3 linked regions of the Homo sapiens genome follow. The protein of the gene in region 3 purifies or fractionates together with the protein of the main gene of each other region. This does not show direct contact. Each region holds a gene or a part of one and is shown on either strand. Other genes may lie near its edges.

The links.
Region 1: the proteins of CHFR (region 3) and CHD1L purify together in Homo sapiens (affinity purification with mass spectrometry; one study listed by BioGRID). This does not show direct contact.
Region 2: the proteins of CHFR (region 3) and ZEB1 purify together in Homo sapiens (affinity purification with western blotting; one study listed by BioGRID). This does not show direct contact.

Annotation. Positions count from the first base shown.
Region 1 is NC_000001.11:147,284,070-147,287,727, forward strand, and holds part of CHD1L (chromodomain-helicase-DNA-binding protein 1-like), read left to right. Parts: intron 1-281; coding exon 282-430; intron 431-1,254; coding exon 1,255-1,418; intron 1,419-2,228; coding exon 2,229-2,431; intron 2,432-3,565; coding exon 3,566-3,658. UniProt on the Homo sapiens protein: ATP-dependent chromatin remodeler that mediates chromatin-remodeling following DNA damage.
Region 2 is NC_000010.11:31,527,753-31,530,455, forward strand, and holds the end of ZEB1 (zinc finger E-box-binding homeobox 1), read left to right. Parts: 3' UTR 1-2,052; downstream 2,053-2,703. UniProt on the Homo sapiens protein: Acts as a transcriptional repressor. Inhibits interleukin-2 (IL-2) gene expression. Enhances or represses the promoter activity of the ATP1A1 gene depending on the quantity of cDNA and on the cell type.
Region 3 is NC_000012.12:132,856,555-132,860,212, reverse strand, and holds part of CHFR (E3 ubiquitin-protein ligase CHFR), read left to right. Parts: intron 1-985; coding exon 986-1,145; intron 1,146-2,653; coding exon 2,654-2,808; intron 2,809-3,582; coding exon 3,583-3,658. UniProt on the Homo sapiens protein: E3 ubiquitin-protein ligase that functions in the antephase checkpoint by actively delaying passage into mitosis in response to microtubule poisons.

The sequences.
Region 1 (3,658 bases), on a different chromosome or scaffold from region 3:
TGAATGGAAGAATCCAGCAGAGATTCACAAACCATCTAGGGATGAACCAAAGGGTTTTAAGCCATGCTCTCCCCTTGGAAAAGTAAACACATGGGATCCCCATGTAGAACCCACATTCTTCAGTGTCAGTGGGATGGGAAATGAAATACCTTCCTTCATATGGACTTAGCCCATTTAGAATATAGGCTGTTCTCCTGTCCACTTTTGTTATTGATTTGAATAGCATTAATCTATTTTTCCTTGGTATCTAACATTTCTCTCTTTGTGTTTTATGTTGTTAGAAAATCATATGTACTTATTTGAAGGTAAAGATTATTCTAAAGAGCCCAGTAAGGAAGACAGAAAATCATTTGAACAACTGGTAAACCTTCAGAAAACCCTTTTGGAGAAAGCTAGTCAAGAGGGCCGATCACTCCGAAATAAAGGCAGTGTAAGAACTGTTAATTTATTTAAAAGTTGTTCTTCCAAACTCTCATTCTAAAACAAACAAAAAAATGATGCTGGCATCGTTTTGTTCTCTTAGGATGATTTGTCAAGAAATAAGTATGTGTTTGCTGAAATGTTATTATAATTAACTATACCCTAGTATAAAAACTATGTAAAAAAGTCAGCATGAAAAACATAAAGGAGAGAATATATTGTACGATGTCATGTAGGTGAAAGCAGCCTTGTCCATCCAAGTCACCCCTAAAGGCATTCCTATATTATACCAAAATACCATATCCTGCTGTTGGTAATGATGACCCTATGACAAGAAGAGAGGATGGCAATCATAAATGATATATGTAGTGTTCACAGTGTTTGGCAGTTAACGTGGTCATTAAATGCTAGCTATCACTAAGATAATCATGATGTTGAAATACAATCTTAAAAAAGTTACATAATACATTGCAGAAAGAGTTCCATTAAAAATGGCTGAAGTGGCATCCTGCAGGGTATGCTTTTAGTCAAGGAAAAAAGTTACTTTTCTGAAGTAACTTATTCCTAATGAAATGAATCAAAATGACTGTTTCAACCATGCCAATGCTAGGGCTGAGTTTACAGCATGGTATCCTGGTCACTGTGCCTGTGAAGTGTGTAGTATGAACAGTGCCTCCAAGTGCTTTGCCTCCAGTTCCCACCATGCAGGGTGTGTGGAGATGCAGTGTTCTGTGGAATATTAAGCATGTTGCTTCCGTACAGTGTGTGTTAGGGATAATGAAATTCGGGGAGGAATCTTCTTGACCCTGGTGATGGATCTTGTTCTTCCTCTAGGTTCTCATCCCAGGCCTTGTGGAGGGATCTACCAAAAGGAAGCGGGTTCTGAGTCCAGAAGAGCTGGAGGACAGACAGAAGAAAAGACAAGAAGCAGCTGCCAAGAGAAGGAGACTCATAGAGGAGAAGAAGAGGCAAAAGGAAGAGGCTGAACATAAGAAAAAGTATGTCTGCGTTAACCAAGCTGGCGGCCACAGTTGAAGGAGTCACTATTGTATAGTGAGACCACAGTTGAATATCACTTTAAAAATACAGAAAATTCATTTTAAGTTGGTTCCTATTGGTAACAGAATACTTTCTGAAAACATTTCCTCTAGGTAAGTGAAAAGTCTCAGTGTATAAGGCAGGGAAGATGCATTCCATTAAAACCAGAATTGTTTTCTTTTTTCTTTTGAGATGGGTTCTTGCTCTGTTACCCAGGCTGGAGTACAGTGGTATGGGCACAGCTCATTCAGCCTCAACTTCCCATGCTCAGTGATCTACCCACTATAACCTCCCTAGTAGCTGGGAACACAGGTGTGTGCCACCATGCCTGGCTAATTTTTTTTATTATTTGTAGAGACAGAGTTTCACGGTGTTGCCTAGGCTGGTCTCAAGATCCTAGGCCCAAGCTGTCTTTCTGCCTTGACCTCCAAAGTGCTGGGATTACAGGCGTGAGCTACCATGCCCGGCCAAAACCAGAAGATTTTAAGATTTTATTGTAGCTATCTGACAAAGAATAATTTACTTCAACAATCTCTTTTAGTCTTAAAAACAGGAACATTCAGGGAGTGCTCATTATTGAATTGTAGTCAGGAAGCAGTTAGCCTAATCAGTAAGACTTGTTTACAAATAAGTAGAAAACTTCAATCAGGGTGAGTTTCTAATTGCATTTCTACTTGGCAGATATTGTTTGTGAACAGCAGTATAAAATGTGCTCCAAGGGAAATTGTGATTGTCTGGGTTAATTTCCTTTTGTCTCTGGCCTGCTAAAGGATGGCCTGGTGGGAATCCAACAATTACCAGTCCTTCTGCCTGCCCTCTGAGGAGAGCGAGCCAGAGGACCTTGAGAATGGGGAAGAGAGCTCTGCTGAGCTGGATTACCAAGACCCAGATGCTACTTCCCTCAAGTACGTTAGTGGTGATGTCACCCACCCTCAGGCTGGGGCCGAGGATGCTCTCATTGTGCACTGCGTAGGTACGAGAAGTGGTATGGGCTGGGGATGGGGGCCTCAGTCCTTATGGTGCCAAGAACTGGGGAGGATGGGGCACTGGGACTGGGGTGGTGGTCCCAGTGTAGTATTGTACAGTCAAAAAAGTGTGAATTTTAGAGTCAGGAGATATTCCAGAATCATTTCACTCTTGGCTTTCTCATTTACCTGGTTTAGTTACCCAACCTTTCAACTTCAACTTCCTTATCCATATGATGGGACAATATCTGTCTTATCCTCTGCACAAGGTTTTTAAGAGGGTGAAATGAAGCAACATTGATAAGACAAACAAATCCTTTGAGAAAAAGCAAAACTTCAAGCTTGTTCCCTTGCTTGACCTTTGTACTTTTTACTTCATCTGCCTAAAACCCTTTCTTCCCAAATAACCACATCAAGTGTTGTTCAAATGTCTGTTTCTCAGAGAGGTCTTCTGTGATTACCTCATATAAAACAGGCCCCATCCCCCCTGTTATTCTCTGTCCCTTCTCCCATATTTTCCTTTATCACACCTGTCCCACCTGACACATTACCTATGTATTTGTTTATTTGACTGTTGCTTTGCATTAAAAAATACACTTATGGCAGCAGGGGTTTTTTCTTGTTCGCTGCTGTGACTGTGGTGCCTAGAACGATGCCTTACGTGTAATACATGCTACCAAACGTTTGTAGTGTGAATGAATGACTATAAATGCTAAGATACTAAGCAGCTTTGTTAGTACCAGCTTGAATAAGTCACTTAACCTTTCCTGTGTACTGTTTCATAACCTTGCCTATGTGCTGTTGCATAACCTATTGCTTCTACTCACTCTGTAATGTTCCATCTACTCTCCGTCCTTCCGCAGTCATTTGCCAGGAATCACAGATGCACCACAGAGATTTTGCTCATTGAGAACCCTAATTTTTGAGATGCTTTCCTGTTATCATGGCCCCAGCTATATCTTCCAGAAAACATAAACATATTTGGGAAGTCCAACCTGTGATATTCCTAGGAGATAAGATATTTTGTTTCTTCCCTTTGAAAAATCATTCTTCCACAAGTCCCTTTTGTGTGCCTTTGTTTTTCTAAATTGTGCACTGGACTTCACCTCCTATAGATGAAAATTTTCTCTTTCTTCAAACAGATGACTCTGGCCACTGGGGCAGAGGTGGTTTATTTACAGCTCTGGAAAAGCGATCCGCTGAGCCAAGAAAAATATATGAGCTGGCTGGGAAAA
Region 2 (2,703 bases), on a different chromosome or scaffold from region 3:
GTGAGAACTTCTGCACTACAAAATTCCCTTCACAGAGAAGTATAATGTAGTTCCAACCCGTGCTAACTACCTTTTATAAATTCAGTCTAGAAGGTAGTAATTTCTAATATTTAGATGTCTTAGTAGAGCGTATTATCATTTAAAGTGTATTGTTAGCCTTAAGAAAGCAGCTGATAGAAGAACTGAAGTTTCTTACTCACGTGGTTTAAAATGGAGTTCAAAAGATTGCCATTGAGTTCTGATTGCAGGGACTAACAATGTTAATCTGATAAGGACAGCAAAATCATCAGAATCAGTGTTTGTGATTGTGTTTGAATATGTGGTAACATATGAAGGATATGACATGAAGCTTTGTATCTCCTTTGGCCTTAAGCAAGACCTGTGTGCTGTAAGTGCCATTTCTCAGTATTTTCAAGGCTCTAACCCGCCTTCATCCAATGTGTGGCCTACAATAACTAGCATTTGTTGATTTGTCTCTTGTATCAAAATTCCCAAATAAAACTTAAAACCACTGACTCTGTCAGAGAAACTGAAACACTGGGACATTTCATCCTTCAATTCCTCGGTATTGATTTTATGTTGATTGATTTTCAGAATTTCTCTACAGAAACGAAAGGGAAATTTTCTAATCTGCTTTATCCATGTACTTGCATTTCAGACATGGACATGCTATTGTTATTTGGCTCATAACTGTTTCCAAATGTTAGTTATTATGGACCCAATTTATTAACAACATTAGCTGATTTTTACCTATCAGTATTATTTTATTTCTTTTAGTTTATAGATCTGTGCAACATTTTTGTACTGTATGTCTTCAAACCTGGCAGTATTAATACCCTTCTTACTGACATATGTACTTTTAGTTTTAGAAAACTTTTATATTTATGTGTCTTATTTTTATATTTCTTTATTTATTACACAGTGTAGTGTATAATACTGTAGTTTGTATTAATACAATAATATATTTTAGTATGAAAATTTGGAAAGTTGATAAGATTTAAAGTAGAGATGCAATTGGTTCTCCTGCATTGAGATTTGATTTAACAGTGTTATGTTAACATTTATACTTGCCTTGGACTGTAGAACAGAACTTAAATGGGAATGTATTAGTTTTACAACTACAATCAAGTCATTTTACCTTTACCCAGTTTTTAATATAAAACTTAAATTTTGAAATTCACTGTGTGACTAATAGCATGATGCTCTGCAGTTTTATTAAGAAATCAGCCTAACCATACAACTCTCATTTCCTTAGTAAGCCAAATTAGGATTAACTTCTATAAACAGTGTTGGGAACAATGTTTAACATTTTGTGCCAATTTGTTCCTGTATTCATGTATGTAAGTTACAGATCTGACTCTTCATTTTTAAGTTCCTTGTTACATCATGGTCATTTTCTAGTTTTTTACCAGACTCCCATCTCACAATAAAATGCATCAACAAGCCTGAACTGCTGTCATTCTTTTCATCATTATCAGTATTTTCTTTGGAAAACTGTGAAATGGGGTACATTGTCATCCTGCATTTGATTCATCTTGAGCTGAATTTGGGTAACACTAAATGTTTTAGACATTCTCCACTAAATTATGGATTTTCTTGTGGCTAAATGTTTCTGGAGAGGTCAGAGTTGACAAAACCTCTTCACAGGTTGCTCCTTCTTCCTGAAATCCTTAATCCTCCGCATTTCATGCTTCAGGTCATTTCAGGGAAGCCTGGGTTTAGATGCCTTTCTGACTCTCAGCTCCTGCACTTCTGTCATCATACCTCTGATACTATTATTTATATTCCTTCCCCACTAGGAACAGGAACCACATTTGTCATAGTCACTCTCACATTCCTCACTGCCTAACAGGGTGCCTGGCATAAGTTGGGACAACAGATATTTGTTGAATAAAAATATAATTTGCATGTTTATGGAGCTCAGCTATGTTCTCACTTTTTTTGCTTCTAATTCCAGAATATATGTTAAATGATCTAATAATTTGATTATTTTCTTATAAGTCTTATTAAACACTAGTCATAATAGACACAATAAATTATGCCTTCTTTTTCTATTGCCTTACTATTTTGATTTTTTGAAAGTGTATTTCTAGGTGTCTTCCTGGTGCTTAACCTCATGGTATATGGCACAGGTATTGCTGGCTTGTGGACATGACTACCTCCAATAGGAGCGATAGGACTGATCCTAGTCAGCTCTCCTTTGTAGAATTCACTTCCCTTTCTAGGACCCCATATTCGTAGGTGCTCGTTACCATGTTGCCTGATTTCCCCTGTCACTGAGAGCAGCTACCAATAAACAGACTGACTGAAAAGGATTAGGAACTAAGAATAAGATACTCTTCTTAGGAGGTATCCACAATGTAATATAAAGTTCAATGAGGGCAGTGCTTGATATGTATGGATAAATGACTAATAAAGGAATTTAGGCATTACCAGAACTTTTCAGAAAGAAAACGTACATGGACCTTTCCCAGTATTCCCTCATATGACATACAACAAAAATAATAGCAGGGCCATATATTATTTATTCATGCCATGCACAGGTATTTCACTACTATCAAAATGTTCACAAAAGCCTCATAAAAAATACAAATAAAGACAATGTGCCCATGAACACATACGTCTTAAGTAGCAGAATGAGGATATGAACATAGGCTTATCTGAGTCCAAATCCATGCTTCTTCTTTTTTATTTTTTTGAGGC
Region 3 (3,658 bases):
TCAAATGTACCATGATAACTTAGAAACACAGAGGTAAATACCAGAAGAAACAGCTCAAAGACATGAAAATAGTTTTCCTCCGAGGAGGGAAATTGGGTGAGGAGCGGCTGAGACGGAGGGTGACTGCCTTTGTTTTCTTCTAAATATATTATGTATACATTTTTTTAAGAGACAGGATCTTGCTTTGTCACCTAGGCCAGAGCGCCGTGGTGCAGTCTTGGCTCACTGCAGCCTCCACCTCCTGGGCTCAGACTGTCCTCCCACCTCAGCCTTCCGAGTAGCTGAGACCACAGGTGCACGCTACCATAGCTGGCTAATTTTTTTTCCCATTTTTTTAGAGATGGGGTTTCATTATATTGCCCAGACTGGTCTTGAACTCCTGGGCTCAAGCGATCTGCCCACCTCAGCCTCCCAAAGTGCTGGGATTACAGTTGTGAGCCATTGCACCTGGCTTCTTCTAAATACTTGGCTTTTTAAATTGTGTACAGTTTCTTTAATTAAAAATAAAAATTAATTGATTACCAACATCTGAGCATTATAGAAAAATAAAAACACCAGAAGAGGGTGGGGCGCGGTAGCTCACACCTGTTACCCTAGTACTTTGGGAGGCCGAGGCGGGTGGATCACGAGGTCAGGAGATTGAGACCATCCTGGCTAACACGGTGAAACCCTGTCTCTACTAAAAATACACAAAATTAGCCGGGCGTGGTGGTGGGCACCTGTAGTCCCAGCTACTCAGGAGGCTGAGGAAGGAGAATGGCATGAACCCGGGAGGCGGAGCTTGCAGTGAGCCGAGATCGCGCCACTGCACTCCAGCCTGGGCGACAGAGCGAGACTCTGTCTCGAAAAAAAAAAGACTGCATGTATTTCCTTCTCGGTTACGACAGTTAGAACACATCCCTTTCTCCTGTGGACGGGGACCTTGACCTGAACCTGCGTGTATTTCCTTCTTGGTTACGACAGAACACATCCCTTTCTCCTGTAGATGGGGACCTTGACCTGAACGGGCAGTTGTTGGTCGCACAACCGCGTAGAAATGCCCAAACCGTCCACGAGGACGTCAGAGCAGCGGCTGGGAAGCCAGACAAGATGGAGGAGACGCTGACATGCATCATCTGCCAGGACCTGCTGCACGACTGCGTGAGGTGCGACCGTGTTCACCCTTGGCTCACGGAACATGGCACTGCAGGTTCTTCGTCCCGTGTGGGGCAGGGCTGGGCATGAGACAAGCCTGCAGGTCCTGTTTGGCCTGGCATCTGCTGAGGTTACTCTGTCACCCAGATAAGTGGGTGGAGTGGGTGGAGTGGGTGGAGCTTTCTCAGCCCACTGCAACCTCTCCCTCCCAGGATTGAGCGGTTCTCTGACCTCAGCCTTCTGAGTTGCTGGGACTACAGGTGCACACCACTATGCCTGGCTGACTTTTTTTTTTTTTTTAATGTTCTAAATATTTTTTATTCCTTTTTTTTTTTTTTTTTTTTTTTTTTTTTAGATGGAGTCTCGCTCTGTCACCAGGCTGGAGTGCAGTGGCACAGTCTTGGCTCACTACAACCTCAGCCTCCCGGGTTCAGACGATTCTCCTACCTCAGCTTCCTGAGCAGCTGGGACTGCAGGCGTGTGCCACCATGCCCGGCTAATTTTTTTGTATTTTTTAGTAGAGACAGGGTTTCACCATGTTGGCCAGGCTAGTCTTGAACTCCTGACTTCAGGTGATCTGCCCACGTTTGCCTCCTAAAGTGCTGGGATTATAGGCGTGAGCCACTACTCCCAGCCACCCTGCTGATTTTTGTGTTTTTTGTAGAGACGGTTTCGCCATGTAGCCCGGGGTGGTTTTTTGTTTTTGTTTTTGTTTTTTGGAGTTAGAGTCTCGCTCTGTCACCCAGGCTGGAGTGTAGTGGTGTGATCTTGGCTCACTGCAACCTCCACCTCCCAGGTTCAAGTGATTCTCCTGCCTCAGCCTCCCAAGTAGCTGGGACTACAGGCATGCGTCACCACATCTGGCTAATTTTTTTGTATTTTTAGTAGAGACGGGAGTTTCACCATATTAGCCAGGCTGGTCTCGAACTCCTGCACTCAGGTAATCTGCCCACCTTGGCCTCCCAAAGTGTTGGGATTACAGACGTGAGCCACCCCGCATGGCTACCACTTTCATTCTACTCGTGGCACCAACAAGGAGGAAACCTGGAACCCAGAGCCGGAGGCTGTAGACCCCACAAGTTTTGAGTGTGTGGGTCGTGTGTGACCCCGTGAACTCTGCAAACAGATGAAAGGAACTCTGCACATTTTAAATGCTCCTTATCTGGGAAGGTGTATTTCGCATAGAATGAACGTAGGAGCCGCTGAGGAAGGGCCTCCTTGCTTTTCCGCGGGAACTCAAGAGTGACAACCTTCCAACTTCTGGGCCAGAAACACTTGCTGTCTCTGTTGTTTGTGTTCCTGAAGTCATAATCTACTCGCCTCTGTCTTTCCTGAAAACACAGAGGCCGTGTGGCCTCTGATTTCTTTTCATTAACCAAGACTGACTTAAAGGGTTTTTAGGTTGAACGATGGCTGGGCCCCTGTAGGCCCTTCCGTGGTGGGGCTGCTGCGGACCTTGGTCGAGGGTCGCGGTTGCATCTGTGGGACTGTCTGGACACTGTTCCTCTTGCACTTTCAGTTTGCAGCCCTGCATGCACACGTTCTGCGCGGCTTGCTACTCGGGCTGGATGGAGCGCTCGTCCCTGTGTCCTACCTGCCGCTGTCCCGTGGAGCGGATCTGTAAAAACCACATCCTCAACAACCTCGTGGAAGCATACCTCATCCAGCATCCAGGCAAGTGAGGGCATCCACACCAGCACCCGGGCACGTGAGGGCGGTCCCTCCACCACCACCCAGGCACGTGAGGGCATCCACCCAGCAGCACCCGGGCACGTGAGGGCTGTCCCTCCACCAGCACCCGGGCACGTGAGGGTGGTCCCTCCACCAGCACCCGGGCACGTGAGGGCATCCACACCAGCACCCAGGCACGTGAGGGCGGTCCCTCCACCACCACCTGGGCACGTGAGGGCATCCACCCAGCAGCACCCGGGCACGTGAGGGCTGTCCCTCCACCAGCACCCGGGCACGTGAGGGCTGTCCCTCCACCAGCACCCGGGCACGTGAGGGTGGTCCCTCCACCAGCACCCGGGCACGTGAGGGTGGTCCCTCCACCAGCACCCAGGCACGTGAGGGCATCCACACCAGCACCCGGGCACGTGAGGGTGGTCCCTCCACCAGCACCTGGGCAAGCGAGGGTGGTCCCTCCACCAGCACCCAGACAAGTGAGGGCGGTCCCTCCACCAGCACCCAGGCAAGTGAGGGCATCCACACACCAGCACCCAGGCATGTGAGGGCGGTCCCTCCACCAGCACCCGGGCACGTGAGGGCATCCACACCAGCACCTGGGCACGTGAGGGCAGTCCCTCCACCAGCACCCGGGCACGTGAGGGCGGTCCGCCCAGACCCCTCCTTCCGCAGCACTGCGCACGCGAGCTCCCAGCAGTGTGAGCTGTGTCTGCCTGCCATGTCTCACTGCCGGTGAATGGCGCTGTGTCCTTTCAATTCTAGACAAGAGTCGCAGTGAAGAAGATGTGCAAAGTATGGATGCCAGAAATAAAATCACTCAAGACATGCTGCAGCCCAA